2 separate regions of the Homo sapiens genome follow, and region 1 is linked to region 2. The links come from fine-mapping of genetic effects on gene expression. A gene starts in region 2. The other region holds a variant in brackets. All regions are shown on one strand. Distances are between the middles of the regions. Region 1 overlaps ARHGAP19 (Rho GTPase activating protein 19). Region 2 holds the start of FRAT1 (FRAT regulator of Wnt signaling pathway 1).

The links. PIP is the estimated chance that this variant, and not a neighbour inherited with it, causes the effect.
Region 1: its variant is the best candidate, but not a certain one, in a credible set for the expression of FRAT1 in B cells (Schmiedel 2018, PIP 0.60).

What each region holds. Positions count from the first base shown.
Region 1 is chr10:97,231,713-97,235,970 of GRCh38, reverse strand. ARHGAP19 (Rho GTPase activating protein 19) reads left to right here. Exons shown (of 12, transcript NM_032900.6): 9 at 656-754. It overlaps ARHGAP19-SLIT1 (ARHGAP19-SLIT1 readthrough (NMD candidate)), which reads left to right. Exons shown (of 15, transcript NR_037909.1): 9 at 656-754. Among named protein-coding and RNA genes, the nearest start is that of SLIT1, 48 kb to the right of the region's middle. The variant TTTA/A (reference allele first, on the strand shown) is at 1,553.
Region 2 is chr10:97,317,282-97,321,539 of GRCh38, reverse strand. FRAT1 (FRAT regulator of Wnt signaling pathway 1) reads right to left here and starts at 2,269. Exons shown (of 1, transcript NM_005479.4): 1 at 1-2,269. The coding sequence starts at 2,086. The coding sequence ends at 1,247. RefSeq lists enhancers at 885-1,044, 2,134-2,428, 2,166-2,955 and silencers at 1,385-1,484, 1,985-2,294.

The DNA of each region.
Region 1 (4,258 bases), 86 kb after region 2:
CAATCTGAAAAGGCAGAAGAGTAGAAGAGTTAAATGCTATATTATTATTACTTTTTAAGTGGGAAATGAATGGCTAATCAAAGCATTGAATAAGATTATTCAATGCATTGGGTCTTCTCGTTTTCCACTTTAGATACCTCCAGAGAGCTGATGTTGATAGCATTGACAAGTCTGCATTCTGATGTATTTCCTCTGATGGTATTGTTGTCAGGCAGTCATGATAGATGTCCATTTAAAGAGTTTTAGTAACTTAAAAAAATTCTGTATGCAATTTATGTTAAATTAGGGACTGTTTTAGATTGTGCCAGTAACTGTGTGGTTCCAAGATGCTTTGTTGCAAAAAAGTCTTGGTTAGCAGCTGGGGATCGTGGATAAATTTCATAAGCTCTCCAAGTCTCAGTTTTTTTGTCTGTAGAATGGGGACAGTAATTCCACATTCAAGGAATGTGGCGTGCAGAGCCCCTCAGAGCACTTGAATCCACTTCTTTTGGCATCATCATTTCTGACTTTGTGATTGGCTTTTTGACCTCCTAATCCATCTATGCGCAGACTCAGTTTTTCCTGGACTTTTATTTACACTTAGCTATTAGTTGTCACAGAATGCCGTGTCTTGATGGGAAAGTATTTATAAAATGTTCTCCATGTTTTCTTTTAGTTTAATAAGCAATCATTGACCCAGACACCAGGGCGAGAACCTTCTACTTCCCAGGTACAAAAGAGGGCTCGTTCGCGCTCCTTCAGTGGGCTTATTAAGGTAGGTATGCTGGGCTGTCGTTTTCAGCATTGATTTTTAGGAAATGTAACAATGTGATTTTTCTTATGCATAAAAAGTTTTCTTCTGTTTTTTGGGGACCCTATAAAGGGCTAGTTTATAAGGGGGTAAAGACAAAATGTTGAAAAGCTTTTATATTGCAAAGTGCTTTGCTGTGTTGCACATCAGAGAAGGGGCTCTGTGACGTGAGGAGTAGAAGTAAGGGTCCTTCCTTTTCTTCTGGGGCTAAGGGGCTAAGGACAGAGTCTGCATTCCTGAGCAGTGTAAGAGGCCCTTTTGTTTTCTGATCAGCTTCGAGTTACACACTTCTTTATGCAATTTGGTAAACCTGTGGAGAAGTGAGGAAGTTGAGACAGACTAGGGAAACTGTTAGAAAACTGGATTTTCCAATAGGCTAGTGAGTTTTGATACCCCAAATTTTTGTGAGCTTAATATTTTTAACAGTTGTTGTACTTTCTTCCATGTATCAAATTCAGTAAAAATCTTGTTTTTAAAACAAATACAAAATATGCTTCTATGTTATTGCTGCTATCACCATGTTTGCAGATTAAATTTATAAGTCTTCAAACTATCGGAACATGTAGTGAAGGAATATTGCCATCAGGTGGCAGTAGATAACTTGATCATGGGGTTCAAATTTCCATGCATGAACTAAGGCAAGGTTTTGGTTAACTTGGAGAGAGATGAGTGCTATATACACTGCTTTTCTTTTCTATTTTTCTTTTTTGGAAGAGATTGCTGCCCCAAAAGCACTGAGTATCTTTTTTTTTTTTTTTTTTT[TTTA/A]ATTTTTATTTCTGGGTACATGTGCAGGATGTGCAGGTTTGTTATATAGGTAAATGTGTGCCATGGTGGTTTGCTGCACCTGTAAACCCATCACCTAGGTATGAAGCCCAGCATGCGTTAGCTATTTTTATTTTTTTAATTTTTTTTTGAGACAGAGTCTCGCTGTTGTCGCCCAGGCTGGAGTGCAATAACATGGTCTCGGCTCACTGCAACCTCCCCCTCTTGGGTTCAAGCGATTCTCCTGCCTCAGCTTCCCAAGTAGGTAGGATTACAAGTGCCTGCCACCATGCCCAGCTAATTTTTGCCTTTTTAGTAGAGAGGGGGTTTCACCATGTCGGCCAGGCTGGTCTGGAACTCCTGACCTCAGGTGATTCACCCGCCTCAGCCTCCCAAATTGCTGGGATTACAGGCATAAGCCATTGCGTCTGGCCAGCTACTTTTCTTAATACTCTCCTTCCCCCCACTCCACCCCCCAACAGGCCCCAGTGTGTGTTGTTCCCCTCCCTGTGTCCATGTGTTCTCATTGTTTAGCTCCCACTTTTTTTTTTTAGATGGAGTCTCTCTCTGTCACCCAGGCTGGAGTGCAGTGGCTTGATCTCAGCTCACTGCAGCCTCCGCCTCCTGGTTTCAAGCCATTTTCCTGCCTCAGCCTCCCAAGTAGCTGGGACTACAGGCGTGCGCCACCATGCCTGGCTCATTTTTGTAGTTTTAGTAGAGACGAGGTTTCACCATGTTGGCCAGGCTGGTCTCGAACTCGTGACCTCAAGTGATCCACCCGCCTTGGCCTTCCAAAGTACTGGGATTATAGGCATGAGCCACTGCACCCGGCCAGCTCCTACTCACAAGTGAGAACATGTGGTGTTTGGTTTTCTGTTCTTGTGTTAGTTTGCTGAGGATGGCTTCCTTTTGTTTTTATTTTTGGTGTTTTGCCCTGCTTTTCTTTTAAAAATTACTTTGTTATTAAGATATATAATTCCAGCAACACAGGGAGCTCTTTGCTTAAAATTTAAAATTTTTGCCCTAAAAATAAATAACTTGTAATATTTATTTATTTATTTATTTTTGAGACAGGGTCTTGCTCTGCTGCTCAGGCTGAAGTACAAGTGGCACCATCATGGCTTATTGCAGCCTTGATCTCCTGGGCGCTCAGCGATCCTCCTACTTCAGCCTCCCAAGTAGCTGGGACCACAAGTGCATGCCATCATACCTGGCTGATTTTTAAATGTTTGTAGAGATGGGGTCTTGCTGTGTTGCTGGTCTTTTTTTTTTGAGACAGTCTCGCTCTATGCCTCAGGCTGGAGTGCAGTGGCGTGATCTCAGCTCACTGCAACCTCCATCTCCAGGGTTCAAGTGATTCTTCCACCTCAGCCTCCCTAGTAGCTGGGATTACAGGCGCCCACCACCATGCCCGGCTAATTTTTTGTATTTTTAGTAGAGATGGGGTTTCACCATGTTGGCCAGCCTGGTCTTGAACTCCTGGCCTCAAGTAATCTGCCCGCTTCGGCCTCCCAAAGTGCTGAGATTATAGGCGTGAGCCACCATGCCCAGCCTGTGTTGCTGGTCTTGAATTTCTGGGCTCAAGTGATCCTCCTGCTTTGGCCCCCTGAAGTGCTGGGATTACAGATGTGAGCCACTGTGTCTGTAATTTTTTTTTTTTGAGGTACAGCTGTTAGCATTTACAAATTCATCTTACTGTAATTTTGGTCCTAGTTATAATTTATAGATATCTAGAATTCACTCTCAATCCTGACCTCCTGGGGCCAGTAGCTTCTAGGACATTAGGCTTACTTGACATCAAAATTTCCTTTGCCATCTACAGAGTGAAAAGGCAACCCTGGATTGGGAGAAAATATTTGCAAATCATATTTATGATTAGGGATTAATATCCATAATAATCTAAAGAACTCCTATAACTCAACACAGCAAAAACAACCTCATTAAAGAGTGGGCAGAGGCCGCGCACAGTGGCTCACGCCTGTAATCCCAGTACTTTGGGAGGCTGAGGTGGGCGGATCACGAGGTCAGGAGATTAAGACCATTCTGGCTAACACGGTGAAACTCCATCTCTATTAAAAATACAAAAAATTAGCCGGGCATGTTGGCATGTGCCTGTAGTCCCAGCTACTCAGGAGGCTGAGGCAGGAGAATCGTTTGAACCCAGGAGGCAGAGGTTGCAGTGAGCCGAGATTGAGCCACTGTACTCCAGCCTGGGTGACAGAGCGAGACTCTGTCTCAAAAAAAAAAAAAAAAAAAAAAAAAAATAGTGAGCAAAGGACTTAAATAGAAATTTCTCCAGAGAAGATGTACAGATGGCCAAGAAACACATGAAAAGATGTTCAACATCACTAATCATTAGGGAAATGTAAATCAAAACCACAATTAGATACCACTTCACACCCACTAGGATGACTATTATTAAAAAAAAAAAAAAAAAAACAACGGAAAATAACAAATGTTGATGAGGATGTGGAGAATTTGGAACCCCTATGCATTATTGATAGGGATGTAAAATGGAGGAGCCACTGTGGAAAACAGTATGGCAGTTCCTAAAAAATTTAAATAGAATGACCTTGTGATCCAGCAATGCTACTCCCGGTATATAACCAAAAGAATTGAAAGCAGGGTCTTGAGGCAATATTTGTACACCCGTATTCATAGCAGCATTATTCACAAAAGCCAAAAGGCAGAAGCAACCCAACTGTC
Region 2 (4,258 bases):
TACAAAGGCCAGCTGGCATGGCTGGGGGAGGGGCAGAGGGAGGAAATCAACTCGTCTATCCAGGGAATTGCAGCTGTTATTGCAAATGGCCCCGGAGAGCCCATTATAAGCTGCTGTGCTAGGCTGTGTGTCCCTGGAGTGTCCATCACATGGCGTCTCCCTAGCCCCCAACCCAGGCCCCCAGGATCCCAGAGCCACCCGCTTGAGTAGGACTGCAGAGCCGAGTAGGAGAGGAGGAACCCAGGGCCCGGTCTCGGGAGTTTCCGTGAAAGCCCGGAGCGCGGCCAGGGGCGGTGGTCGCCTACCGAAGCACAGCCGCCCAGCACGTCCGCGCTTTCCCACACCCGCGGTGGCGGCGACGCGCGTGTCCTCAGGAGACTCCAGCACTTGCAAAACACTGCGCTCTTCTCCGAGCACCGGCAGAACCTGGCTACTCTGTCCCGCAACCCAGTGCGTGCCCAGGAAACAGTGACCTTGAACCGAGGAGAGGCGGGCCGGCTCTGAAAATACACTTTAGACAGGGCGTGGGGTTCACTCCGCGCCTCTCTACCCTTCCACCACCATTCAATACTCCCCGCCCCCACCTCCTTTCCCCACCCGTGTCGTACAGCCTTCCCCCACCACTCTGAGAAGAGAGACAGTTGCAAAGAGAGCGCAGGGGTTAACTCCTATTCAACCCCCAAAGGGTCCCTTCATGGCACCGCATGTTTGGTATTAAGCAGCACCTCCAAAGACACAAGATGGTTTTTTTAAGTCTGGCAGATTGGGCTGCACCCTGAAATTATCTACTCATGTTCTCCTCCCCCAAAGTGGATCAGGAGCCAGCCCTGAAAAGGTAAAGCAAGTAACTGGCATCATCCTCCGTGGTTCCGGCGCACCGCGATCCGGAGAAGCGTGGATTGTGGCCACATGGTCGCGGGGCTGGAGGGCACTGAGAGGCTGCGAGGAAATGCAGGCTCCGCGGCCAGGTCGGGTCACGCCAAATAAGGAGTCCTACTGACTTGTACGTTTGAGGTGCGCTCTGTAAAATCTGCCTTAAATAGGGCCAAAGTCCTTCATTCCAAATATTTTGGCCCTCAACCCCAGTTACCCGCGAAACACTCGCGATTTTTCGGTTCCTCGTCATTAGCTTTTTACTCTCGCTTCCAAAAGCCAGAGTTCTCCACCAGCCTGAGTAGAACTGCAGCCCTCAAGGGAACCCCTTGCCCTCCAGTCTGAGGCTGGCGCTGTGGCCACCCCGGGCGTGTTAGCTGCCAGGCACAAGAACGCCGTCGCCAGTTCTGAGCTGCGCCCTCCCGGAGGCGCCAGGGTCACTGCAGGCCGCGCGAGGGCTGCGAGGCGAAGGGGGTTCATGCACCGGGGCCGACAGAGGTCCCAGGAGCGGGCGTTGGGGAAGCTTTGCACGTAACTGCAGCCGTCGCGAATGAAGCCTTCGCACGGCCTCCTTGATGAGGTTTCCAGAGAGCACTAGCTGCTGCAGAAGCCGGTGCGGGTCGTCGTCGCCTGTGCGGGTTTCTGGTTGGGACCCGCGTCGCTGCTGCAGGCGGCGGGAGGCGGCGGCGCCCCGGAGCCATCCTCGCCGGCACGGACCCGACAGCGGCTGCGGGATGCCCTGCTTGCCAGCTCCCGGAGGCCCATCAAGGTCGGCCTGAGGGGGCAGTGGGGACAGCGCGCTGGGGCCTGTGGCGAGCTCGGCCACGCAGTAGGGCGCAGCGCGGCCCCGCACGCGGCCGCGGTCCCCCAGGGCGCAGCGCAGGACCCCAGGGGGCGCCGGGCCCACAGTCTCCGCCAACGCGGGCGGCAGCAGCAGCGGCACCGCCGGGGACCTGGCCTTGTCCGCCGGCACCGCCGCAGCCAGGGGCCCCGGGGCCCGCAGCGGCGCCCCCGGGGGCCCGCACGGCGAGGCCGGGCTGTGCTGCGCCGCGTCCAGCTGCAGCGTCTCGCCGATCTGGGCCACCAGCCGGTCCACCTCGCCCGAGCTGCCCAGCGCCACTGACTGCTGCAGTAGGAGGAAGCTGTCCTCCTCCTCTTCCTCCCCCTCCGCCTCCTCGCCGGCTTCCTCTTCCTCCTCCCTCCGGCACGGCATGGCCCCCTGTCTGGGCACCCGGAGCTGTGCGGGCGTCGCTGGGGGCTCGGCTGCCGGCGGGCGCGGTGGGCCGCGGCGGAGCGGGCGCGGAGCTGAAGACTAAGTCTGGACCGGGGCCGGGGCGGACGCGGAAGCCGGAGCCCGCCAGGCACTCTAGCCGCGCGCCTGCAGCCGCGGGAGCCGGAATCCTGCCGGCTCGGGTTGATTTGTAAACAATGGGTGACGTCACGTCGGGCCCTACCACCGCGCCGGGGAGGGGGTGCTGTGCCGCTGGGGGACGGCGCTTCTGTGGGATTGGGGGTCTGGGTGAAGCCGGACTGCCTTCTGAGCTCCTTCGCTCAGGGTGCTGTCTGCAAGGGCGCCCTGGGGACCTGATCCTGGCTCCCGCAGTCGGGCGCGATTGGCATTTCCAGAAATGGGCACCAGCGTGAACCCTGTTGGTTTCTTCCACACACAAGCAAGCACGCACACTAACACACACCCACCCACCCACACACCCCTTCTCTCCGTGCGTCAACTCAACCGGTTTTTAGCGTTTGCGCTTTTGAGGTCCGGCATGCGGGCGTCTGGTGAGGATGGAAAGGAAAGGGAGTCAGGCTAGGGATTTGTACGGAGATTAGGGAAATGAAGCTGACGGGAATGGAAAGGAAGAAGGGGACCTTGTCGTTCGATGGAGGTGGCAGAGTTGGAAATGGCAAAGAAAGGCCACAGATTAATGTTTTTTGATCGAGATCCTGGGCGGATGGGGGCCTGGACTGGGGTTGGCATTGCTGGAGAGGAGGTTGCTAGTCTTTTTGTTTATTTGTTTGTTTGTTTTTTTGAGACGGAGTCTCGCTCTATCGCCCAGGCTGGAGTGCAGTGGCTCGATCTCCACTCACTACAACCTCCGCCTCCTGCGTTTAAGCAATTCTCCTGCCTCAGCCTTCCGAGTAGCTGGGATTACAGGCGCCCACCACCACGCCCGGCTAATTTTTGTATTTTTAGTAGAGACGGGGTTTCACCATGTTGGCCAGGCTGGTCTCGAACTCCTGACCTCAGGTGATCCACCCGCCTCAGCCTCCCAAAGTGCTGGGATTACAGGCGTGAGCCACTGCGCCCGGCCTAGGTTGCTACTCTTTTTGTTTTGTTTTGTTTTTTTGAGACAGAGTTTCGCTCTTGTTGCCCAGGCTGGAGTACAATGGCGCAATCTCCGCTCACCACAACTTCCGCCTCCTGGGTTCAAGCAGTTCTCCTGCCTCAGCCTCCCGAGTTGCTGGGATTACAGGCATGCGCCGCCATGCCCAGCCTAATTTTGTGTTTTTAGCAGAGATGGGGTTTCTCCATATTGGTCAGGCTGGTCTGGTACTCCCGACCTCAGGTGATCCACCTGCCTCGGCCTCCCAAAATCCTGGGATTACAAGCGTGAGCCACCACGCCTGGCTATAGGTTGTTAGTCTTAAGAGGGGCTATGTCCAGAAAGTTGTTTAAAAAAAAGCCTCAGACCAGTAGGGGGGATGGGCTCTGAGGAGGTACGTAGTAGCAGAGAAAAATACCTGTTTGGATGAAAATGGAGATACGCTTCCTTCCTTCCTTTCTTCCTTTTCTTTCTCTTTCTTTTCTTTCTTTGACAGAATTTCACTCTGTCACCCAGGCTGGAGTGCAGTGGTGTGATCTGGCTGATTGCAGCCTTGACTTCCCAGGATCAGGTGATCCTCCCACCTCAGCCTCCCGAGTAGCTGGGACAATAGGCACGCGCCACTACACCTGGCTAATTTTTGTATTTTTAGTGGATACAGGGTTTCGCCATGTTGGCCCGTCCGGTCTCAAACTCCTGGACTCAAGCAATCCCTCCTCCCGAAATGCTGGCGTTACAGACATGAGCCACCGCGCCCAGCCTGGAAGCAACTTTAAAATTCTGAGCATGATATAGAAAATAGGATACAAAGAAAGAAATGAGCCTGGAGATCCAGATAAATAGAAAACGAGGGTCTTGTTGGGCAGTTCCAACGATAATAATTATAGGAGCAAACCTTTAGGAAGGGATGAGTGCAGGAAAGAGGTAGGGAAGTTGGTTTAAAAAGAGTTGGGTTTGTTTTTGTCAAGTGTGGAGGAAAAAATGTAAAAACAGAGGAAGAGACAGTTTAAACAAAGCCATTGGATTTCTAATCTACGAAATCTGGATTTCTACAGGGT